Linked DNA regions of Homo sapiens: regions 2, 3, 4, 5 and 6 are each reported to be linked to region 1. Evidence: microRNA targets listed by miRTarBase, many of them from high-throughput screens and not tested one by one. Region 1 holds a microRNA gene; each other region holds the end of a gene's coding sequence.

The links. The annotated mature microRNA hsa-miR-6864-3p reads GUGAGACUUCUCUCCCUUCAG and lies in region 1 at 1,699-1,719, opposite strand. An mRNA with a match to its seed (bases 2 to 7 or 8) in the 3' UTR can be bound and repressed. Matches are read on the target gene's strand: a 7mer-m8 pairs with bases 2 to 8, a 7mer-A1 pairs with bases 2 to 7 and ends in A, and an 8mer does both.
Region 2: miRTarBase lists FGG as a target of hsa-miR-6864-3p. The part of its 3' UTR that is shown has no 7-base or 8-base seed match.
Region 3: the mRNA of NBEAL1 is a reported target of hsa-miR-6864-3p. Seed matches in the 3' UTR shown: 8mer at 2,120-2,127 and 7mer-A1 at 2,962-2,968.
Region 4: miRTarBase lists DCTN4 as a target of hsa-miR-6864-3p. Seed matches in the 3' UTR shown: 8mer at 2,057-2,064.
Region 5: miRTarBase lists ZNF490 as a target of hsa-miR-6864-3p. Seed matches in the 3' UTR shown: 7mer-A1 at 1,187-1,193.
Region 6: the mRNA of TRPM7 is a reported target of hsa-miR-6864-3p. Seed matches in the 3' UTR shown: 7mer-m8 at 361-367 and 7mer-A1 at 22-28.

What each region holds. Positions count from the first base shown.
Region 1 is chr17:4,968,004-4,972,093 of GRCh38, forward strand. It overlaps MIR6864 (microRNA 6864), which reads right to left and starts at 1,768; the gene lies at 1,699-1,768. It overlaps CAMTA2 (calmodulin binding transcription activator 2), which reads right to left. Exons shown (of 23, transcript NM_015099.4): 17 at 2,337-2,533; 18 at 1,899-2,082; 19 at 1,627-1,698; 20 at 1,497-1,517; 21 at 1,147-1,334; 22 at 904-978; 23 at 1-816. The coding sequence ends at 753. MIR6865 (microRNA 6865) reads right to left here and starts at 2,147; the gene lies at 2,083-2,147. RefSeq lists enhancers at 1-213, 214-891, 859-2,058, 892-1,568 and a silencer at 1-39.
Region 2 is chr4:154,601,388-154,605,477 of GRCh38, reverse strand. FGG (fibrinogen gamma chain) reads left to right here. Exons shown (of 9, transcript NM_021870.3): 9 at 412-1,307. The coding sequence ends at 644. Among named protein-coding and RNA genes, the nearest start is that of FGG, 9.2 kb to the left of the region's middle.
Region 3 is chr2:203,216,892-203,220,981 of GRCh38, forward strand. NBEAL1 (neurobeachin like 1) reads left to right here. Exons shown (of 56, transcript NM_001378026.1): 56 at 362-4,090. The coding sequence ends at 463. Among named protein-coding and RNA genes, the nearest start is that of CYP20A1, 20 kb to the right of the region's middle.
Region 4 is chr5:150,707,407-150,711,496 of GRCh38, forward strand. DCTN4 (dynactin subunit 4) reads right to left here. Exons shown (of 13, transcript NM_016221.4): 13 at 1,034-3,956. The coding sequence ends at 3,743. Among named protein-coding and RNA genes, the nearest start is that of RBM22, 8.4 kb to the left of the region's middle.
Region 5 is chr19:12,577,007-12,581,096 of GRCh38, reverse strand. It overlaps ZNF490 (zinc finger protein 490), which reads left to right. Exons shown (of 5, transcript NM_020714.3): 5 at 1-4,090. The coding sequence ends at 612. Among named protein-coding and RNA genes, the nearest start is that of LINC02926, 27 kb to the right of the region's middle. RefSeq lists an enhancer at 1-1,173.
Region 6 is chr15:50,558,319-50,562,408 of GRCh38, forward strand. It overlaps TRPM7 (transient receptor potential cation channel subfamily M member 7), which reads right to left. Exons shown (of 39, transcript NM_017672.6): 39 at 1-3,490. The coding sequence ends at 3,360. Among named protein-coding and RNA genes, the nearest start is that of USP50, 14 kb to the left of the region's middle.

The DNA.
Region 1 (4,090 bases):
GCGATGTTTAATGGCAATTCGTATAAACCAAGCCCATGCACAAGTAGAAAGTGCCCGTGGAGCCGGCAGGAGGCCCCCGCCGCGCTAGAGAACCACAAGCCCGGCCGTGCAGCCCTCCCCGCGGCGCCTTAAATAGATTCTTCACTATACTCTGTATGTTACAGTATGTACAAGACCCCTCCCCTCGGGGGACGGGGCGGACTCCGCAACGCGTTCCTATGTACACCACCTCCCCTTCGGCCCTGAGGTCAGTGGCCAGAGTCGGGTGATGGGGTAAGACAGGGCCAGAGAGGGAGGAAACAGACGCAAACATGCGGAGTCGGGTGGGGACACGGTCAGCCCTGAAACACGAGGGGCGTGCGCAGCGAAGGCAGTGGTGGGAACCGAGGCGGATACATTCAGAGACGCGTCGAACAAATAAATAAGGCAAGTCAGGAGGGGGCCGAGTCGGGTGCAGGCAGGAGGAGCTGGGGAGCAGGGGCAGGCAGGGCTCCGGAGGTCACAGCGGAAGATGCAGGTATGTGGGGCGCGGGTTTTCTGGAGCCAGGACCAAAAGAGACGGGGCACGACCAGGAGGGACGAGGAGAGGGGTGTGGGAGCAAGGCGTGGGGAGGAGGGAGGAGGCCTACAGAGGGCTCCAACAAAGGTGAACAGGAAAGCTGCCGACAGGGGCTCCCCCTGCCCCAGAAAGCCCTCTCCCTGTTAAGACTGCACGAGGCGCCCCCAGGGTGGTGAGAAAGGCGGTGGCCAGGTCATGTGGCCAGTCCCGGCTGGGGAAGCCCTTCCAGCTCCTGGTTCTGCTTCAGTTCCCTCATCCTGCAGAGAGAAAGATAGGAGTCAGAGGAGACTGGCGGATCACGACGGGTGGCAACGCAAAAGCCCAGGGGGAGAAGGGATGAGTACCTGTGTCGGCAGCGCCGCAGGAATCTCATGATCTTCCGGGCTGCCTGGTCCTGCTTCTTGGTGAGAAAGGAGCCTCTGGTGAAAGAAACAAAAGATGGACCTCACAGAAGGCATCGCATGCCTTCGGCCCCCCCAGGAACCCTAGGCAGGGAATGGCAGTGAGGCATGATGATCAAGAGGATGAGTAAGGGGGAATGGCGTGGATGCAGTGGGTGGGCACAGAGGGCTGGGGCTGGGCCCTACTTGTTGCGGGCAGGCAGGGTGGCCGAAGTCCGGTGGGGAGGGCCGGGCCTGCGGCGGTAGGAGCGGTAGTGCTGCTGGATGAGCACAGCCGCTCGGCGGCTCTGCTGAAATCGCTTCTGTTCATAGTAGCTTCGGAACTTGCTCTGGATCAGGATGGCCGCCTGGGTCATCTTCTTATAGAGTGCAAACTGCAGGGGTGGGGAGGAGGGACAGGGGCTGAAATAGAGGGACGGAGACCCAAAGCCCTGAGGCTCACCCAAGTTAGGCTGATGCAAGACTCTCTGTAACCCACACACTCAAGGAAAGACTGAATCATCACAGACCTCACACTCAGAGCTCATGCCTAATACCTTAAGTGCAATCCAGGTCAGCTTGTGGAGAGAGAAGGGGAGTTAGGGCTCTGGCAACATTCTGGAATGGTTAGGCGTGGGTGTGGGTTGGTGGGTTGCTGGTTACACTTTTGAGGGAGAAGGGTCTCACCTGCTTGTACTTCCGGTAACAGCGCTGGATTACAGCTGCTGCTACCTCCTGCTGCTCCTTCAGCCGCCGGCCCTGAAGGGAGAGAAGTCTCACCACCTCATGACCCACATAATGGCATATCTGACTTGTCCCTTCAACTTTCCTGGGGTTCCCCTGACCCTTTACCCCATCCAAGGCCTGTCTGCACGACTACTCATCCTCCAAAAGCCCTGGGAGCCCAGTCTCCCCTGACTGGAGATTGTGTAATTCATCCTGAGACCCCTGCCCCTGACCTTGTACTTTCGGAAGGCCGTCTGGATGACTCGGGCAGCCTCATACAGTTCCCGCTGCTCGTGATCTGATAGTGTCAGCAGGGCAAAATCACTTTCCATCTTGCCACTGGTGGATGCAGAGAGAAACTCTGCCCAGGAGGGTGCTGAAGGGACAGCCAGGCGACCTCGCTCAAAGGGCAGTTCGCTGTAGGCGGTAGGGAAAGAGGGTGTCATGAAGCATCTGAAGTCCCTCCTCTGCCACCTATGGATGGCTACGAAGGAAAACCACCAGCAACTGAGTCTGGAGAGTGACTTCAGAGTTCATCAGCCAGTTCAGTTCGCTTCTCCAAGGCCCTGGGGCCTCAGCCAGAATGGAGCTTTGGCTGTGGGAAAGCCAGCTTTCTCCCTTCCTCCCATCTTCCTTTGAAGAATCTGGAGGCTTTGTCCTGAGCTAGTCACCTGGGAGGGGTTGAGCTGGGGAAATGGTCCACATTCTCCAGGTAGCTGGCCAGCCAGGACATGGTCTCACTGAGCCCCACAGCCCCTGTCCGCTCCCGCATTGAGGCTCCAGCCTCGGGCAGCCCCACGAAGTCCTCTCGTTTAATCCGCTCCGGTGTGGCTTCGATGATCTGCTTGGCTAGTGAGATCATGTCCACCTGGAAGAAGGGAGAAGCTGAGTGAGTCCTTAGGGGCCCCAGCTGCCAGCTGTAACCTCAGTCCATTCCTATCTTGTTCCTTCTCTCCCTGCCAGGTGCTGCTAACCCTGTCTTTCTGGGCCACTGTTCCAGACTCATTCATTTATACTGATGGGGCTCCCACTTGGGGGTCCCTCTGTGCTGAGATGCTATGGAGAATATAGGATAAAAAGGAGATACTCCAAGTGGGGATTCAAAGCTGAACAAATGGAGGACTTGACACCCTTTCAGGCCAACCATCCACTGTCCTACCTGGGCCTGCCCCATGCCAGCTGACCAGCACATGCTCCCCATAGGCTTGGCTGTGCCCACCCCCAGCTCCCTTTCAACTCTCCAAGAACCATTCCAACACTTGCCAACTACTACCCGGATGAATGGCTCCAGTCTGGCCTTTGCTCCAGCCCTGAAGCCTATACTCCAGCACTTCCTGCTGGACACACTCAACACAACCTACTTGTGGAGTTCCCTAAGTTTTTTGTACTTAAAGTGCCACCCACTTACTCCATTAGTCTCTCTAAAGCAGGTATGTCCCCAGTCTCTATCAGAGAAGTACAAGGCTATACTTGAAGATTCACTTTCATTCCACAAGACTTTCTTAGCTTTATCATGTGCAAGCCTCCTTCCTGCATCAGATCACTGCCAAATACCCTCATCTTGCCAGCCTTACCTCTCCACACAACTCCCAGCTGCCCTCCGTCATCTTGGTTCTCCTAGAACCTTGTCCCTACATAGATCAACGGTTAACTCCTACAAACCAGCTCTAACTGAAGATATTCCCTAGAATTTTTGTTATAGAGACAGGGTCTCTTGTCCAGGCTGGAATGCAATGGCACAGTCAGCTCACTGCAACCTCATATTCCTGGGCTCAAGGGGTTCTCCTACCTCAGCCTCCCAAGTAGCTACAACTACAGGTGTGTGCCACCATGCCTATTTTTAAAAAATTATTTTGTGTAGAGATGGGGTCTTGTTATGTTGGCCAGACTGGTCTCAAGCCCCTGTTCTCAAGTGATCCTCCCACCTCGTTCTCTGAAAGTGATGGGATTACAGGGGTGAGCCACCGCACCCAGCCAGAATATTTTTTAATGCTTTTTATATTTTAAATCTTACTATTTTGTCTTTTTTTTTTTTTTTTTGAGACAGTCTCAGTCTGTCACCCAGGCTGGAGTGCAGTGGTGCAGTCTCGGCTCACTGCAGCCTGTGCCTCCTGGGTTCAAGTGATTCTTGTGTCTCAGCCTCTCAAACAGCTGGGATTACAGGCACATACCACAGTGCCCAGTTAATTTTTGTATTTCTTGTAGAGAGGGGGTTTCGCCATGTTGCCCAGGCTGGTCTCAAACTCCTGGCCTGAAGTGATCCACCCGCCCTGGCCACCCAAAGTGCTGGGATTACAGGCGTAAGCCACCAAGCCCGGCCAAATTTTTTTTTTCCAACATCTGTATTGTGGGACCAGCCAGAATTTTCAACCTCCGCTGCCTCATGACTTCCAAGTCACATGGTCTAAAAGGAGCTAAGCAAAAG
Region 2 (4,090 bases), not on the chromosome of region 1:
CAATCAACCAACAAAATTGTGCTTTCAAATAACCTGAGTTGACCTCATCAGGAATTTTGTGGCTCCTTCTCTTCTAACCTGCCTGAAGAAAGATGGTCCACAGCAGCTGAGTCCGGGATGGATAAGCTTAGGGACAGAGGCCAATTAGGGAACTTTGGGTTTCTAGCCCTACTAGTAGTGAATAAATTTAAAGTGTGGATGTGACTATGAGTCACAGCACAGATGTTGTTTAATAATATGTTTATTTTATAAATTGATATTTTAGGAATCTTTGGAGATATTTTCAGTTAGCAGATAATACTATAAATTTTATGTAACTGGCAATGCACTTCGTAATAGACAGCTCTTCATAGACTTGCAGAGGTAAAAAGATTCCAGAATAATGATATGTACATCTACGACTTGTTTTAGGTGGCACTTACTCAAAAGCATCTACTCCTAATGGTTATGATAATGGCATTATTTGGGCCACTTGGAAAACCCGGTGGTATTCCATGAAGAAAACCACTATGAAGATAATCCCATTCAACAGACTCACAATTGGAGAAGGACAGCAACACCACCTGGGGGGAGCCAAACAGGTCAGACCAGAGCACCCTGCGGAAACAGAATATGACTCACTTTACCCTGAGGATGATTTGTAGAAAATTAACTGCTAACTTCTATTGACCCACAAAGTTTCAGAAATTCTCTGAAAGTTTCTTCCTTTTTTCTCTTACTATATTTATTGATTTCAAGTCTTCTATTAAGGACATTTAGCCTTCAATGGAAATTAAAACTCATTTAGGACTGTATTTCCAAATTACTGATATCAGAGTTATTTAAAAATTGTTTATTTGAGGAGATAACATTTCAACTTTGTTCCTAAATATATAATAATAAAATGATTGACTTTATTTGCATTTTTATGACCACTTGTCATTTATTTTGTCTTCGTAAATTATTTTCATTATATCAAATATTTTAGTATGTACTTAATAAAATAGGAGAACATTTTAGAGTTTCAAATTCCCAGGTATTTTCCTTGTTTATTACCCCTAAATCATTCCTATTTAATTCTTCTTTTTAAATGGAGAAAATTATGTCTTTTTAATATGGTTTTTGTTTTGTTATATATTCACAGGCTGGAGACGTTTAAAAGACCGTTTCAAAAGAGATTTACTTTTTTAAAGGACTTTATCTGAACAGAGAGATATAATATTTTTCCTATTGGACAATGGACTTGCAAAGCTTCACTTCATTTTAAGAGCAAAAGACCCCATGTTGAAAACTCCATAACAGTTTTATGCTGATGATAATTTATCTACATGCATTTCAATAAACCTTTTGTTTCCTAAGACTAGATACATGGTACCTTTATTGACCATTAAAAACCACCACTTTTTGCCAATTTACCAATTACAATTGGGCAACCATCAGTAGTAATTGAGTCCTCATTTTATGCTAAATGTTATGCCTAACTCTTTGGGAGTTACAAAGGAAATAGCAATTATGGCTTTTGCCCTCTAGGAGATACAGGACAAATACAGGAAAATACAGCAACCCAAACTGACAATACTCTATACAAGAACATAATCACTAAGCAGGAGTCACAGCCACACAACCAAGATGCATAGTATCCAAAGTGCAGCTGGAGACAGGAAAGCTGCTTGGGGAGTCTCCCAGCAGAACCTTTTAGCTCCAAACACCTGTGGTGGGACCTGGTCACTCTGAAAGGACTGCAACTCAGAGCAGAGAGCTTTAGGGAGCTATTTGCCCTATCTCTCACTAGTCATGAGGTGAGCTGAATGGAACCATCTCTTCCTTCTGATTCAGGGATATTGACTTTTTAGCAGCCTGAGTTCAGGTTCATTCGCCAACTTTCTAAGGAATAGCTAAATCTACATAACTTAGCAAAAGGCTGACTGTGGGAAGTAATTGGCTAATTTTATGAGGTGGGTCTGGTTGTTCCGAAGTCCTGAGCTTTGGCTTTGCACTCTCTTTCTTTTCACACTTCTTTCTTTCTTCTTGCCTTTCCTTTTTTTTTTTGGATATAGGGTCTCACTCTGTCACCCAGTCTGTAATGCAGTGGCACAACAGTAGCTCACTGCAGCCAGCCTTGAACTCCTGGGCTCAAGTGATCCTCCTTCCTCAGCCTCCCGAGTAGCTGTGACTACAGGAGTGCACCATCACACCTGCCTAATTTTTCTTTAATTTTTATTTTTGTAGAGAAAGAGTCTCACTGTGTTGCCCAGGCTGGTCTCAAATGCCTGGCCTCAAGGGATCCTCCTGCCTCGGCCTCCAAAAGTGCTGGGATTACAGGCATGAGCTACCATGCCAGGCCCACAATTTCCTTCTTAATCTTTTCACTTTCTTGTTATCAGGAGTGCTGAATTTAAGATATCCTATTGAAGAGATAAAAACAGTAAGTCAGCTTCTAGATATACAACCGAAGACGTGGGAGGCTTTGGAAAATAGAAACATTGATTCATTGTTTGCAGCCTTCATATATACATGTATGCATGAAGCACTTATTCAATTAACATTTATTGAATGCCTTCCTTGTGGTAGCCATTGTGTTGGATTTGGGGATATAGTACATGGTATGCTTAGTGTTCTCCACTCTCCCAAACCTGTTCTACTCCATCCAGTCCTCAAATGCAAAAAAAACAGTGACTCATCCTCCAATCTTCCTCCCCATATCCAATTTCTACCTCCCTATATCCAATTACTCATCAAGCCTGCTGAATTCACCTCCTATATATTTATCATATTCACTTTTTTCCTGTATACCGATTGTCACCTTTGTAGTTGAGATACATCTCTTGCCAGGATAAGGGCAATCACCCACTTCCTGTTCCCTTTCTTACATCCAGCCTCTCCTGCTACCATCTCATCCTCCTCCAAACCACTTCTAAAGCCAGAATGCATACAGTTTACCCTTTGTGAACCTATAAAATCCTTTGTGTGAGCAATCTGGTCATAGCTACAAAGAGATATACAATATTCATGAGTTTTCATGCAATATCACTCTAGTGATTTATCCCAAGAAAATCATTTTTAAAAAAGAAAATAGTTATATACAGAAATAAAAATATAGATGTAAATTTCATATTAGTAGGAAATTAAGAAAATATTTAACAGTGGAAGAATGGACAAGCAAGATAGCTTATTAGTAAATAAAATAGAATATAAGGATTATATAAGCACAATAGCTTTTTATGAATATGGAAATATTTACAAAATAAGTGAAATTTTAAGATGTAAGAATAATTCTAAAATAAAAATTATGTAAAGTTGTATATACATATACTTCATGAACAAAATATAATCTTGACATATATCCTTATTTGTACATACTCGTTCTCCTGTCAACCAATCCACAATATATAATTACATGAAAATTCTAAAACATGGCTGGACATGATGGCTCACACTTGTAATCTCAGCACTTGGGAGGCCAAGGTGGGAAGATCACTTGAGCCCAGGAGTTTGAGACCAGCCTGGGCGAAATGGTAAAACCGTCTCCATAAAAAATACCAAAAAATGTTAGCCAGGCATGGTGGTGCACACCCGTAGTCATAGCTACCAGGAAAACTGAGGTGGGAGGATCACTTGAGCCTGGGGAATTGAGCCTGCAGTGAGCCGTGATTGTGCTGCTGCACTCCAACCTGGGCAACAGAGTGAGTGAGACCTTGTCTCAAAAACAAAAAAATACTAAAACACAAAATAAATATAAGGAAGTCTAAAGATTCCTGATGTCTCCCATTATCACTTGTCCAATTCTTCTTCTGAAATATCAAATATAGCATTCTTTCAAAAACATTTAGGAGTCTCCTGATTTTTGTAGGTATCCTGAGTACAAGCTTGATCTGCATGTTGAATAATCCAGCATTCATTGGTAGAAAGAGGCTACTAACTTTTTCTTTAGATATCTCTGCATTGTTTGGCTTGTTATAACGAGTACATATTAATTTTGTGGTTCACTTTGCAACCCAGTGAGGCAGAGACAAAAAAAAGAATTTCAAAATTCTACTTGTTTAGTTATTAATATCCAGCGGTGAGCACTGAAAGCCTACAGTAAGAACTAAAGCATGAAAAACCCTTCTAG
Region 3 (4,090 bases), not on the chromosome of region 1:
CTCTCAGGTTCAAGCAATTCTCATGCCTCAGCCTCCCAAGTGGCTGGGATTACAGGCGTGCGCCACCATGTTGGGCTAATTTTTGTATCTTCAGTAGAGACGGAAGTTTGCCATTTTGGCCAGGCTGGTCTCAAACTCCTGGCCTCAAGTGATCTACCTGCCTCGGCCTACCAAAGTGCTGGGATTACAGGCATGAGTCACCACACCTGGCCGTCTTTCTCTATTATTGATAACCTTTAAAGTGTTAATAATTCTGCTAACAATTTGTTTCTTTTCACTCTGCAAAATCAGTGTCTTACATATCTTTTTTTTAATTTTTTCTTAATATTTATTCTTCATTTCTTTGGATTACTTTACACAGATGCGTTCAGGTCAGCTTTCTCGAAAATTTTGGGGATCGAGCAAGCGGCTCAGCCAGATTTCAGCTGGAGAAACTGAATATAATACTCAAGATTCCAAGTGATTGTTATTTCCATTTTCTGTTATGATTACTGAAACCTGATTTATTGCTTTGTCACTTTAACCACATCTCTCAACTCTCTGCAATGTTGCAAGGCTTTTATCCCTGAAAATCATTTACAGATAACCACAATTTGCTGTGGTATATAAACTAATTCTTGGTCTATACTAAGATGTATTTGAGAAAATACATTTGATTTGATTTTGTGGCCCATTCCTAAAGGTCATTGTATCCATTTTTAAAACAAACTAAAATGAGAACATTAGGTTCAATTTTCTTATTATTCCAAATGATAAAATTTAAGATTTTTCTAATAAAAGAGTACAGATAATGGGACAGTTGAGAGAGATGGCTTTAAATACATTCTTAAGTAATCATTTTCCTATTTACTGACCACTGTAATGAAAATATATCAATTTATTTATGGAACTCCTGATTGGGGATAATATTTTAAAGGTATCTGTTGCACACTTGGATTTTCAAAACTCGGTGAAAGTTACAAGTTTGCATGGTAAGAATAAAATAAGAATATTGAAACTGGTACATTAGCTAATTCTATTACTACTTAGCGTGTTTCTAATGAGAAGTTACTGAAATCTATTACTGTCCTTAATAAAAATTGAGTAGAAAAAAGTGGAACTAGAGATACATTTTACAGATGTATTTCCTTAATAATATAATTAAGCAAAAGTGCTAATTGTGATTTTGACAGTTGGGCCTTTTAAGTAGCATTTGCAGCACAATTTGCATTTGCAAAGTTCCGAATTTCTTGACTCTTTCTTCACTAAGCAAATACTGTTTTACTCTAATAATTAAGAGTTAGTAGTACCCAAATATGTTGAATTTTTACTTAGGATATCTGTGTGATTGATGAATGAATTGAAAAGATATGTATAACTTAAAATAATCATTTATATATAGTAATTTAAAAATTTCTATTTCATGTTTTAGGATTATAGCTAATTTTATTATATAGTGTTAAATGTTGTGGTTGATTATTAAGATCTTAAAGTAAAAGTCTGATTTATTTAATTTGGAATTCAAAGACATTGTTAAACTTAGATTTTTTTGTAAGATTATCTTTTGAGTTAGGTCAGAGAGCTTTTACAACTACCAGTGTTATTAATCTGAGATTTCATGTGTTTGGGAGAACTTGTGAATCCCTCTGAAATTGTGCAGAGACTTTGTATGTTAAATGCATTTTCAGGAAGGAATGGTTACATGGCTTTCTTTAAAGGGATCTGTTTCCAGTAATAGTATTCTTTTTTGTTCCACAAATCATAGATGTCCTTAAATCCAATTGTCTTCTCAGTTGAATCTTAGAGAAATTTTTCTTTTGCAATTTCGCTTTCCTGTTGACCACAGTATCCAGTGCCCTTTTCTTTATAATCTTTTGAGTGAGTAAAAAAATTTTAAGAAATAAAGGATTCTGTTTAGGGAAACTTTTGAATAGATTTGATTTGATGTGAGTCAGGGCTAATAAAAAGCTATAGAAGAATTTTCTTTCCAATAAGTAAAAATCCTCTGTTTTATTAAGGAAAAAATAGCTATGTTTTAGGTAAATAACTCTGAAATAAACTGGTACAACAATTGTAAAATAGAACATATTTAAATGTCAAGGTGTCTTTTCTTAAGACTTCAGGAATTTGTATTGAACAAAGTCTCAAGTTAAGTAGCAATAATTATGATGCATAAATGAGACTGGCATCTATTCATTTATTTTATTCTTTTTTGGGGTGATGGGAGGTTTCAATCCAGTGCTTCACCCGTGGTGCCACCGTGGCTATCTTTTTTTTTATCTTACAGTTTTTTAGGAGATTTCAAGTCGGCAGAACTAACATGATTGATTTTTAGTTTTTAAAATACTGATTTTTTTAGAAACTTTTTCTAAATCAAAACCTACTAAGTTTTATTTTGTTATTTATCCAGAGATTTTGATGTAAAAATGCCTTCATTTTTAAGATTACTTAATACTGGATTTGAAAATTATTTTGGATGCTTATAAGTTTTCTAAAACTTAGATAATTAGAAAAAATGCCTAAGTTTATGATGTTTTACTATGCTGCTTTTTAGATGGAAGAAATAAGCAGTTTTTACTTTATAGTACAAATAAGTTTTGTTCACAATAAAATAGATATCCTACCTGGACTAATACTAGATGTACAAGGTAGTGGAATTATTTCTTATATTGCTTTTTCCAAAAAGTAAAAACCAAAAATGTGGGCCGGGTGTGGTGGCTCATGCCTGTAATCCCAGCACTTTGGGAGGCTGAGGCAGGCGAATCACAAGGTCAGGAGTTCAAGACCAGCCTGGCCAACACAGTGAAACCCTTTCTCTACTAAAAATACAAAAATTAGCCGGGCATGGTGGCACATGCCTATAGTCCCAGCTACTTGAGAGGCTGAGCAGCGCAGGAGAATCACTTAAACCCGGGAGGTGGAGGTTGCAGTGACCTGAGATCACGCTACTGCACTCCAGCTTGGGCAACAGAGTGAGACTTTGTCTCAAAGAAAAGAAAAAAAATATGGAATTTAGAGAAAAATCTTTGAGAATACTAGCAACAGTCTAGAGAATGGAACTTAAATTTTATCTGTTAAAAGAAGCAAACAACTATTAGTGAATAATATATTACTCATTTAAAGAGTATAGCCTACTGAATTAAAAATCACTAGATAAAATAATTGGAAAGAAGTACTTTTGAGAATTCTGGTATATTTAGATGTTACCCATAGAAATTAGTTATATATTATATAATGGGAGAAATGAACAGTATCATTGGAATGAAATAACAGGTGGACATTTCAATTGGTGAATATAGTATCTCAAGTTGGCTCTTACAAAGTCTGTTACCTGGCCAATTGTGGTGGCTCACGCCTATAATCCCAGCTCTTTGGGAGGCCGAGGTGGGCGGATCACAAGGTCAGGAGTTCAAGACCAGCCTGGCCAACATGGTGAAACCCTGTCTCTACTAAAAATACAAAAATTTGCTGGGCATGGTGGCAGGTGCCTGTAGTCCCAGCTACTCAGGAGGCTGAGGCAGGAGAATCGCTTGAACCCAGGAGGCAGAGGTTGCAGTGAGCCAAAATCGCACCACTGCACTCCAGCCTGGGCAACAGGGCAAGACTCCATCTCAAAAAAAAAAAAAGTCTGTTATCTTTGCAAAACTTTTTGTATGCTTTTGTTTCTTGATACTGGTGATGACAAAAATAAAAATCTCAGCATCCTGGTGATAGGAAGAGATTTATACCAAGATAATTATTTTACTTTTGGAAAATGAGATCAAGTATTAAAACATGTAATAGCTGTGCACGCTTAGAGAATAAAGAACCTTTATAAAATTTTTTTACAACTGTTTGCAATCAGTATTCTGGCATTACTCAGATAAAATTGTAAGAGAGAAAGAAAAATAGATCAGGGCATAAAAATCAGGAAAGTATATAAAAATGAAGTTTGGCAAGTTGGTTTAGTCTTTCTTTTTAGCCTGTGAAGCTCACGTCTGTTATTAAGTTAATAACAAAATTAAAATCTGTTAACTTTGTTTAGGTCACAGTGCAGTGCATCCTTTTGTAGAAGAAAAAATACCAAGTGTTCATTCTGTCATTAGCAAGGAACACCAATGAGGTTTCTTTT
Region 4 (4,090 bases), not on the chromosome of region 1:
ATTTCCCTTTATTTCCATGCATGGAGGGGCCCACAAGCCTCCTAAAAGGGGGTCCCTGCTCTGCCTCAAAACCAGGAGTGTTGTGTTCTGGAAACCAAGCAAAGCCTTTCAAGAAGGGAGAGATAAACTGTCAGATCTACTGAAAAATTGCATAGTTAAGGACTGAGAACTGACCCTGTATTTAAGTGTGGTGATTGCTGGTGACCTTGACAAGAGCAGTTTCGACCAAGTGGTGGCGGTGAGAGTCTAACTGGAATGGGTTCAGGTGAGAATGGAGGAACTGGAAGGTTGAATTAGGGTTTTTTTTTTTTTTTTTCCCTTGAGACGGAGTCTCGCTCTGCTGCCCAGGCTGGAGTGCCGTGGCGTGATCTTGGCTCACTGCAAGCTCCGCCTCCCAGGTTCACGCCATTCTCCTGCCTCAGCCTCGAGAGTAGCTGGGACTACAGGCACCTGCCACCAGGCCCGGCTAATTTTTTTTATTATTTTTAGTAGAGACGGGATTTCACCTTGTTAGCCAGGATGGTCTCGATCTCCTGACCTCGTGATCTGCCCGCCTCAGCCTCCCAAAGTGCTGGGATTACAGGTGTGAGCCACCGCACCTGGCCATTTTTGTTTTTTAAAAAACTTTTACTTAAACAGAGACAAGGTCTTGTTAGGTTTTCCAGTCTTGTCTCAAACTCCTGGCCTCAAATCATCCTCTCACCTCGGCCTCCTAAAGCGCTGGGATTACAGGTGTGAGCGATCATGCCCAGTCAGAGTTAGAGGAGTTTTGCTGTACAGGGAGTGGAGAAATGGAGTGGCAGCTGAAGAGGAGAGTGAGGCCAATTTCTTTTTTAAGATGAGAGAAATCACATGCTAATGGAAAAGGGAAGGAGGGAGCTGCCGATGCTATCTGTGAATAGGTAAGAGGATGAGCTTCAGTGTTAAGAGGTGGGGCTGGGTTCCAACAGGAAGAGTATGAATAATTCATCTAAGTAAGAGGAGGGAAGGAACAGTTATGAAGGTACAGATGAAGGTGATGAGTGGCCACTGGTGGAGTCAGACCACTGTGTATATTGTAAAGGATATCTTTAGAAGCAATGACCCAGGATAAAAACTGGTAGAGGTCTAACAACATTTATATAATGGTTCTGTGAATATGTATATAAGAAGCTCAAAGCAACATCTACTTATATATTATGGTGAACTAACCTGCTAAGAGATTTTAGATTACTTCATTTAAGGAATGGAAGGGAGCATGCCCCACCAACTCTCTTAGCCAACTCTCTTAACTTCACGCTTGTCTTTTGGCTCTGAGCCATGCTACTTAGTATCTACATGAGAGCAAACAAAAGACACGCTCAAGCTTTGTCTGCTTTATTTCACTACATTAAGTTAAGCAATAAGGCAAAACAGTAACCTGTCATTCATAAAGATCAAGGAGTACCTCTCTGTCCCAAAAGGGACCAAAAAGGGTGTTTCTTCACAAATATGCATGACACTTAGCTCATTATGCTGATAAGCACTTCAAACAAAAGAAAAGGTCAGTAGGTGAATCAAGTAACAAATCCAAATTAACTTAGCCTAAGTTTCCAAAGCTGTAGTTTCAAGTGCTAATGGGATCTAACTTTCCTGTGGTGGTGCATACTGACTAGCATTAAAATTTTTGCACCTCATCTAATATAAAAAAGGCAACAAATACAATTCCTAATTCACCAGCTGCAGGTATTGAATCATTTCTACGAACACACAGAATACTAGCTTACACTAAAACCTATCTTGAGGAAACATTAAACCAGTGGCTCTATTATTCTGCAAGTTAGTTTGGCTTCTGAAGAAAAAAGTTTATGATCAAAGTGTTTTGTGTTTCTGTGTATGGGAATGATGAGACCCATACTTCAACATTATTACTTTGGGGAATAAATACCAGCTACCTGCCATAAACGCATGACATGTGTGTAGTCTATGCAAACGTGTAAACATATGAAGCTATTCTCTACTCTATGCCCATTTCCTCCACTGGCAAATATGGAGCAGTGATTTCACAGTAGGCTCTAGCAGGTAGTGAAATAAAAATTTGAGACTCTGTGGGGTCACAAAAAAATGAAACTCTTTCTATAGTCTGCAAATCTGTAATTACCCATCCCCCTGCTCCAACTCCTAAGAGGCTAAATGTTATTACCATAATGTTAGAGATGAGTATTTTCCTTCTTACACTGCATCACATATATTACTCTGTAGGACTGTTTCATAAAATTGGCTTGACCTTTGTACAATTAGTACAATTTAGTGTCTTTTAGAGTACAATTTAGTGTCTTTTAAAAGCTTCCTAAATATTTAAAACATTTTCAAGGGAAGCTTACAAGGACTATGTCCCATCTGTATTCTACATTATAATGTTATCTTTAATTTTTTAAGACTTAAAACAAGACCAAGGTAAACAAAAAATCTGTATTTTCCTCAAGTCTCTTGGCCACTTACTAACAATACTTTTACAGAAAACACGGTGCAGCTGGTGGTCTACTTTATCAAGTTTCATTTTAGAAAACATCATAGAAATTAAGGTTAGCAACCCAACTCCAGGATACCAAGTGAAAACAGCAAGTCTGCTGTTAGGCCAGAACTGTGGGCTACTTGCTGAACTATTTTATGGTTTACAATCAAAATGGTCTTATTTGACTCACCACATGACAAAAGTCTTAAACTTAGTAAGGGGGAAAGTTCTTAATATCCAGTTTTGGATTCAAGAGATTATAATAGTTAATTTCCCCTTCAAATCAATGGAAAGAATGCTAGTTGAGAATATTCTAAAAATCTAGCCTTTAAAATGTTTTCTGCATTCCAGAAATGAACCTGTCCACTCAGGTTTTCTTTGGGTTCTTTTCCAGGTCCCAAACAGAACAACTTAACTGAGTTAAAGAGGCAGAACAGGGAAGGGGTAGGAAGTAAGACAAATAAAGATTGCCCCCCTGTGGCAGCATTAATCCCTGGGTATTGTGGCAATATTGAAAACGAATGGAATCTGCTACCCCCTTGACATGACATGTAATTGTTTGCTTCTCAAATTCTTCTTAAAAGATCCATATTTTACTGGGAAAAAAATTAAGAACAACTAATACGTGTCCTGTATTCACTTAGAAAAAGAGGGCAAATGAGAGTGCCTTAACAACTTCACAGGTTTTTCCAATCATCATGATACTAAAGATAAAGTGACAATTCAGTTTTTCAGTTATATGGAAATCTATGGCAAAATGGCAGCCATTATGGCAATGAAGGGATATGTTTTAGACTGTTAGATGATATTTAACGGAATGCAGAAAGCAGTTGGTACATTGTGACCAATGCTGGATCATTAACAGCAGGTCTACCTTTGGGTTATCATTTAAGTTTCATCTGTGACATTGTGATCCTTAGTGAGATCAGATCAAGAGACAGTACAGAGTTTCTCAGGTGGTAAATACAATGCCATTCCAAGGAACACCCATCCCCTTTCCTAGGATGGAATTATGCTGCTGTTACTCAACGTGCAGGGTTCAGTGAGGGAGACACAGACTTACTGGTGTCAACAGGGGTGAGAGCAAGAGCAACAGCAGCTACCCTGTGTTCCCAATGCCTTGCCTATGCTCCCACTTTCTTAGCAATAGAATTCCGTAGTGCATGGGTACATCGTTATAAACAAGGCCTAATGAAGCAGCAGCTTCCACATTTTAACGCAGGTTTACGGTGATACTGTCCTTTGGGATCTGCCCTCCAGTGGAACCTTTTAAGGAAGAAGTGGGCCCAAGCTAAGTTCCACATGCTGGGTGAGCCAGATGACTTCTGTTCCCTGGTCACTTTCTTCAATGGGGCGAATGGGGGCTGCCAGGTTTTTAAAATCATGCTTCATCTTGAAGCACACGGTCACTTCACCCTCCTCACGCTGTGGTGTAACTTTGATGAAAATACCCACTTTGTTGGCCTTTCTGAAGGCTATAATGCTATGGAAAGAAAAAAAAGCAAGTATTAGGTAGATAAAAAAATCAGCCAAACCACTAAGACTTACAGTAAAAGTCTTTCACCTTATTCTTTCCTTCAGCACACACAGAAAACCTATAAACACTTTGTTCTTAAC
Region 5 (4,090 bases), not on the chromosome of region 1:
ACTCATACTGGAGAGAAACCTTTTGTATGTAGGGAATGTGGGAGAGCCTTCTTTTCTCACTCAAGCCTTCGAAAACACGTGAAAACCCACACCGGAGTTCAACCTTATACATGTAAGAAATGTGGGGAAGCCTTCAAGTCATCTAGTTCCTGTGAAGTGCACGAAAGAACTCATTTTGGAGAAAAACCCTATGAATGTAAACAATGTGGTAAAGCCTTCAATTCTTCAAGTTACCTTCAGTTGCACGAAAGAGTTCACACTGGCGAGAAAACTTACGAATGTAAAGAATGTGGTAAAGCCTTTCTTTATTCCACTCACTTTCGAATCCATGAAAGAACCCATACTAGAGAGAAACCCTATGAATGCAAACAGTGTGGTCGGGTCTTCATTTACTTCAGTCACCTTCGAAGGCACGAAAGAAGTCACACTGGAGTGAAACCATGTGAGTGTAAGCAGTGTGGCAAAGCTTTCACTTGTTTAAATTCCCTGAAAGTACACAAAAGAATTCATACTGGAGAAAGACCCTTTCAGTGTAGACAATGTGGTAAAGCCTTCAGTTACTCAAAGTCTTTGCACGTGCACGAAAGGACTCATAGTAGACAGAAGCCCTAAGAAAGTAAAGTGTGGTAATGCTGTCAGTTGTATTAGTTCCTTTTGGATGTATGAGAGTACTTACGCTGGAGAGAAATTCAAGGAATGTAAACGGTGTGATTAAGCCTTCAGTTGTCCTAATTCCCTTTGAAGACGTGACTCATGCGGCAATGAAATATTTAACAAATGGGGGAGGAACTTGCACTCTCCTGCGGGATTGCAGATATGTGAATGGACTCCATGGACAGAAAAGCTACGAATGTATGGAGTGTAGGAAAGCCTTCACTTCACGTAATCTTTTAAAGACACCTGAGAATATATACTGGAGAGAAACTATAAAGAAAATTCTATATCCATCCCATCTTTTGTGGGGTTTGTTTTTTGTTTTTGTTTTTGTTGAGATGTAATTTTGCTCTTGTTGCCCAGGCTGGAGTGCAGTGGTGCGATCGCGGCTCACCGCAACCTCCGCCTCCCGGATTCAAGCAATTCTCCTGCCGCAGCCTCCCAAGAAGCTGGGATTACAGGCATGCGCCACCACGCCTGGCTAATTTTGTAATTTTAGTAGAGATGGGGTTTCTCCATGTTGGTCAGGCTGGTCTCAAACTCCTGACCTCAGGTGATCTGCCTGCCTCGGCCTCCCAAAGTGCTGGGATTACAGGTGTGAGCCACAGCACCCAACCTTTTTTTCCCCGCCGCACCCCAAGATGGTGTCTCACTCTGTTGCCCCAGGCTGGAGTGCAGTGGTGTGATCCTGGCTCACTGTAACCTCTGGGTTCAAGCAATTCTTCTGCCTCAGCCTTCCAAGTAGCTGGGATTACAAGTGCCCACCACCATGCCCAGCTAATTTTTATATTTTTAGTAGAGACAGTGTTTCACCATGTTGACCAGGCTGATCTTAAACTCTTGACCTCAAATGATCCACCCACCTTGGCCTCCCAAATTGTTCGTTTTACTTTTTTTTTTTTTTTTTTTTGAGCTGGAGTCTTACTCTGTTGCCTAGGCTGGAGTGAAAGTGGCGCAACCTCTGCCTCCCAGGTCAAAGCAATCCTGCCTCAGGCCCCCTAGTAGCTGGCATTACAGGCACATGCCACCACGCCCAACTAATTTTTATATTTTTAGTAGAGACGGGGTTTCACCATGTTGGCCAGGCTGGTCTTGAACTCCTGACCTCAGGTAATCCACCTGCCTTGGCCTCCCAAAGTGCTGGGATTACAGGCGTGAGCCACCACACCCGGCCCCCAGTTCTTTTTTTTTTTTTTTGAGACGGAGTCCTTGCCCAGGCTGGAGTGCAGTGGCGCGATCTCAGCTCACTGCAAGCTCCGCCTCCTGGGTTCACGCCATTCTCCTGCCTCAGCCTCCCGAGTAGCTGGGACTACAGGCGCCCGCCACCACGCCCGGCTCATTTTTTGTATTTTTAGTGGAGACGGGGTTTCACCGTGTTAGCCAGGATAGTCTTGATCTCCTGACCTCGTGATCCGCCCTCCTCGGCCTCCCAAAGTGCTGGGATTATAGGCGTGAGCCACCGCGCCCGGCCTCCAGTTCATTTTAAAACCATGAAACCACCCACACTGGAGAGCCACCTTCTTAAATGTAAGCAATATGGGAACATCTTCAATGACATCTGCAACCATTGTCGAGATTCTTCGTAGGAAGAATTAAAGGAATGGGGAAGAAGGACTTGGGCCCCAGCAGGCCTTTTGTGGCATCCAGTCAGAAGTTAGGAAACACCCTCTAGGGCAGTGCCTGCCCTCAGCTCTCACACATGACTGGAGAGAAGTGAGAAGACTCCCAGAATCTGCCTTTTAAGTTTCCATCAGTGTCCTCGGGTCAGACTGTGGGAATGCTGTACTTCTAAGACAAAGGTTCGCATCTTACAGTTTTTCCCCAAGTGGGATCTGCCTATGCACATCCTAATTCACAGACATTGTCAGCATTGCATTATTCCAGGGCTGTTTTGAGGTCATCTCCAGCTCCATTTCCCATCTCAAACCTACACTTTGGACACTTGTTTAAACATTCACATCTGAATTTCTCTGTGGCAACCGCAGGTGGCTCTGAGGTGAGAGACTGAAGAAGCAGAGCCTGTATCATGGGACACACACCCCTTGACCACACAGCATCCACTCTCCTGCGGTTACCAGCCCTGCACCAACCACCACAGTCAGAATAATCTCAAAACTGCTAGTGGAGTCACAGACACACTCTGCCATGTCTTAGCTGTAGGACACTCAGAATTCTTACCTCCCCTAACTTGCTTTCCCTGTTTTCTGGCACATTCTACCCTGAGATATTCAGCGGCATATGCACTGATGATGCTCCGGCCTTCTCACGTCAGTGCATGTCACATGCATCCTGCTCCAGGACTGGTTTCCTAGCCTCCCGCTAAGACTAGCACTTAGCTCTTCTTGGAAAAGGACCCACCCTGCAGCGCTCCAGCTCTGTTGTGTATGGGAGGTGCTGGTGTCAGGGTTCACAAGCCATGGAACTACCTTGCTTCACATCACAAGGCAAGGTGAACTCAACTCCCAATAAACTGCTTGCTGGAGCCTCCGAATTCTCCGTTTTCTGAATTGCATAGGCACGATAGGGGTCGGGTCTGTCCTTTGTTGGAGTCAGTCCCCCCTTTTCTTAGCAAGTCAGTGTGTTTTAGAAGGGAGGTGGCAGCATTGAGGGAAACCAGGTCACCATCCACCCTCGTAACAACAGTCTCCCTGGGTGGGTCCCAGAAGTGATCTTTGTGTCGCTCGGGTCGGAACTCTTTAGGCCTCTGGCCTCCACCCTCCCCCAACAGCAGGGATGGGTCAGGTGGCAGCATCCAAAACCACGGTGAAGATACTAGGGTCCAGAGGCCGACTGGAGCAAGGTTTGCTGGCAGATGAGGCCTCAGTGGAAGTGACGGCTACTGTGGAGATGCAGTGGAGGACCTGGTGGCTGAGCCAGGAGATGCACACCTTCGCTTCTCTCACCAGGAACATTCGCTTCTCTCACCAGGAACATTTATGGTAGTATGAGGGGTTGGAACATTATTACTCAACCCATTTCAGGTCCTTTCACATTCTTGAGCTGCCATGTTGTGCTTTTGTAGAGAGATGATTATTGTACTGTGGGAGGTCAGGAAGTTCGAGATTCCTTCACTGTCAGAATGGGCTCAAGGAGCCATCTTTTGTGATAGGTATTGGGGAACTAAGGGGTATCTCTGCTACAGGAATGGGAGTGAGAACATTCACTTTTTGAAGGACAAGTATATGTGGGTCTATGATGATGTTTTTGTAAAACCCTTTTGTGTATGTGTCTGTGTGAGTCCTAATATTCAGTAAGTATTTTCCTCTGTGTAACTCCCTCTAATAGGTGTAGTCAACAAAGCTGTGCTAATATCTCTGTCCCCTTGATCCTGGCATTCTGGAAGACACGAAAGCAAGCAAGGATATATAAGGCACTGTGGTGGTTATTCCCGAGGAGCCAGAGAAACCTGGAGAAGAGATCAGAACACCTGGGGTCC
Region 6 (4,090 bases), not on the chromosome of region 1:
GGATCACTTGAGCCCAGGAATTTGAGACCAGCGTGGGCAACAAGGCTAGACCCCATCTCTACAAAATATATATTTAAAATTAGTTGGGTGTTACCCAGGCATGGTGGCTCACACCTATAATCCCAGTACTTTGGGTAGCCGGGGGAGGTGGATCACTTGAGGTCAGGAGTTTGAGATCAGCCTGGCCAACAAGGTGAAACCTTGTCTCTACGAAAAATACAAAAATCAGCCAGGCATTATGGTGGGTACCTGTAATCTCAGCTACTTTGGAGGCTGAAGCACGAGAATTGCTTGATCTTGGGAGGCAGAGGTTGCAGTGAGCCAAGATTGTGCCACTGTACTCCGGCCTGGGCAACAGAGTGAGACTTCAACTCAAAAAAACAAAAATAAATAAAAATGAAAAATAAAAAAATATATATATAAAATTAGGTACGTGTGGTGGTGCATGCCTGTGGTTCCACCTAATCAAGAGGCAGTGGCAGGAGGATTGCTTGAGCCCAGGAGTTTACGGCTGCAGTGAGCTATGATCACGCTACTACACTCCAGCCTGGGCAACAGAGCAAGAGGTTGTCTTTTTTTTTTTTTTCTTTCTGAGACAGGATCTCACTCTGTTGCCCAGGTTGGAAAGCAGTGGCATGATCTCAGCTCACTGCTGCCTCAGTCTCCCAGGCTCAAGTGATCCTCCCACCTCAGTCTCCCAAGTAGCTGGAACTACAGGTGCACACCATCACATCCAGTTATTTTTTTTTTTTTGACGGAGTCTCGCACTGTTGCCCAGGCTGGAGCGCAATGGCACGATCTCAGCTCACTGCAACCTCCACCTCCCAGGTTCAAGCAATTCTCCTGCCTCAGACTCCTGAGTAGCTGGGATTACAGGCACTCACCGCCATGCCCAGCTAATTTTTTGTATTTTTAGTAGAGACGGGGTTTCACTATGTTGGTCAGGCTGGTCTCGAACTCCTGACCTTGTGATCCGCCCACCTTGGCCTCCCAAAGTGCTGGGATTACAGGCATGAGCCACTGCACCTGGCCTAATTTTTGTATTTTTTTTTTTAGCAGAGATAGGATTTTGCCATGTTGCCCAGGCTGGTCTCAAACTCCTGAGCCCAAGTGATCCACCTGCCTTGGCCTCCCGAAGTGCTGGGATTACAGGCATGAGCCACCATGCCCCACCAAGACAAACAAAACAAAACAAAACAAAACAAAACAAAACAAAAACAGTATAGATGAAAGGCAGCCAGCCTGGGTTCAAATCCTACCGTTGCTACTTATTATTAAATAAACGTAAGAATCTTATGGACGTTACTTTACCTCTCTAGCACCTTGACTTTCAAATCTGCAAAACAGGATAATAACACCTATTTCTTTATAACATTGTTATAAGGATTAAGTAGGTTAATATATGTGAAATACTTAGAGTAATGTCTGGTACACAGTAGGCACTAAATAAGTGTTAGCAGCCAGGTGCGGTGGCTCACAAGGTCAGGAGTTTGTGACCACACTGGCCAACATAGTGAAACCCTGTCTCTACTAAAAATATAAAAATTAGCTGGGCATGGTGGCGTGTGCCTGTAGTCCCAGCTACTCGGGAGGCTGAGGCAGGAGAATCACTTAAACCCGGAAGGCGGCGGTTGTGGTGAGCTGAGATCGCACCACTGCACTCCAGCCCAAGCAACAGAGCGAGACTCCGTCTCAAAAAAAAAAAAAAAAAAAAAAGTATAGCTACTATTATAATCCTGTGAAAATAATCAATATAAAATTAAAAATCAACAGACAGCCCATATTGCCCTTTTTTGGCCTAACAAAAAACAGATTTCTAAGAAGACAGTAAGAAATCAGTATTAATTTAAACATTGTACAGGACAGGAGATCAAAAGCACAGGTATACAAATGGTTCATTTAAAAAAACTGATACTCAAATTGACACCCTGAAAATGTCAGATAATTTTTCAGAATGATTAAACTCACTAAACATCTGTAAACAATAAATTTATTTCATTTCTTTTAAAGATTTAATGATATACAAAACGTATATAGTATCTTTAAGTAATACACTTTTTCTTTCTCCCCACCCCCAATCAATATTAAACACTATTTAAACAGCTTATCATCTCTTGCCTTGTCTGTATCTATGAGATACACTACTAAATACAAATAAGCTTTATACTGCTCCCTTCCAAATAAAAATTAAAATTAGTACCAAGGAAACAAAAGAAAAAGAAAAAAAAAGAAAAAAAATTAAAGCATAAAACTTAGATGAAAAGCTTTTCTTGTTATTGTTGAATATTCAACAATATCTGGGGCTGTTAAATTACATTTTATTGGCATAAGGTTGCACTGCAATCTGCCAGTATCACATAATGATAATCCAACTGAATTAATTTCTTAAGTACCACAAACAGCATTCATGTTCAAATGTTCCAACACAATTTTAAATATATGCAAGAGTTCATGTTTACATTCTGATTTGATATAACAATCAATAAAATCTTTGGAGAAGTTTGTAAGTTCTGGGTTGTTGCTATAGATACAGATAGGGAAAAAAGTACTTTAACTTTCCTCAAAAGGTAACTTCCCTTGACGAGTGAGTTAGGTTTCTGCTTTTATAATTTAGGTTATGTATCAGTTTACCATGGCTTTCTTCTACTTAACAGTGACTTGATAAAACAATGTTTAAAAAACCCAATTAACATTTTTACACAATTTGGGTTCTATTTAAAAAAAAAAACTGGCTCTATCTTTAAATATGGAGCCTAACCCTGATTCATAAATACCGTCCCTCTTGAAAATGGTCTTCAGTTCAGGCTTCTCATACCTCTGTGAACCTAGAATTAGAACAAGTCATTTCCCTTCCCGTGGCCAACAAGCATCTAGTTGGGAACCAGTGATATCATCACTGAACACACTAAATACACTGAGGAAAATTTTGACTGCCATTTAACCAAAAGGCTGCGTGATTTCTTCATTTCCCTAGTTGAATGGCAATAAAACAGCTGCCAATAAAATCTGCATGGACACCTACCTTTGGTTAATGGTATTGTACCACATAAGAGAGAGCATCACCCTCATCAAAACAAAGTCAAATGAGATCCTCTGCTATACAAAGAGCCCTTTAAAAAGTTATAAATACTAATTATCAATTACCTTTAAAATTTCTCAGCTGCCAGCTCTATCCTATAGGGACTTTCTGACTGATTAATCAGGTCAAAAGAATATTGACCTTTTAACTGTGCTGGAGTCAGCAAATTCAACTTGCATACACCTTTCTATATTACCAAACAATTTCCTCCCGAGGGAAAAGTGACACAGTAACATTTCTGTGAGGTGCAGGCAAAACCAATGATTCAGTAATATTAATATTATAACATCAGACGAACAGAATTAGTTGATTCTGATTCTTTGGTGGAATTTCCAGGCTGAAGATTCAAATCTGAAGGCTCATCCTGAGGAAATATAATTTTATCAGGCGTATAATCATTCCTCTTCAGATCTACATTGAACACCCACAACAATTAAAAAAAAAAAAGAAAGAGAAAAGAAAAAAGTTAGTATTTCTTAGAAATGGAGAATTAGGAACCTTTTATTTTCTTTTCAAGACGGAGTTTCGCTCTTGTTGCCCAAGCTGGAGTGCAATGGCGCGATCTCGGTTCACTGCAACCTCCACCTCCCGGGTTCAAGCGATTCTCCTACCTCAGCCTCCCAAATAGCTGGGATTACAGGCATGCACCACCATGCCCGGCTAATTTTTTGTATTTTTAGTAGAGACAGGGTTTCACCATGTTGGTCAGGCTGGTCTTGAACTCCCGTCCTCAGGTGATCCACCTGCCTCGGCCTCCCAAAGTGCTGGGATTATAGGTGTGAGCCACCATGCCCGGCTGAATTAGGATCATTTCTAATCAATTTTTCTCCAAACATGTCAGACTTGTTTTCCATCAGGTTGTTATAAATTCAGTAGTCACCAAATTTATACACATAAAAATGAAGTCATTCATTCATTCAACAAATAATTACATATTGACCATGAGTCAGAAACTCATGTAGGCGTGGGAATGTAGCAGTGAACAAACCAGACAAGCTCACTGGTCTCAGT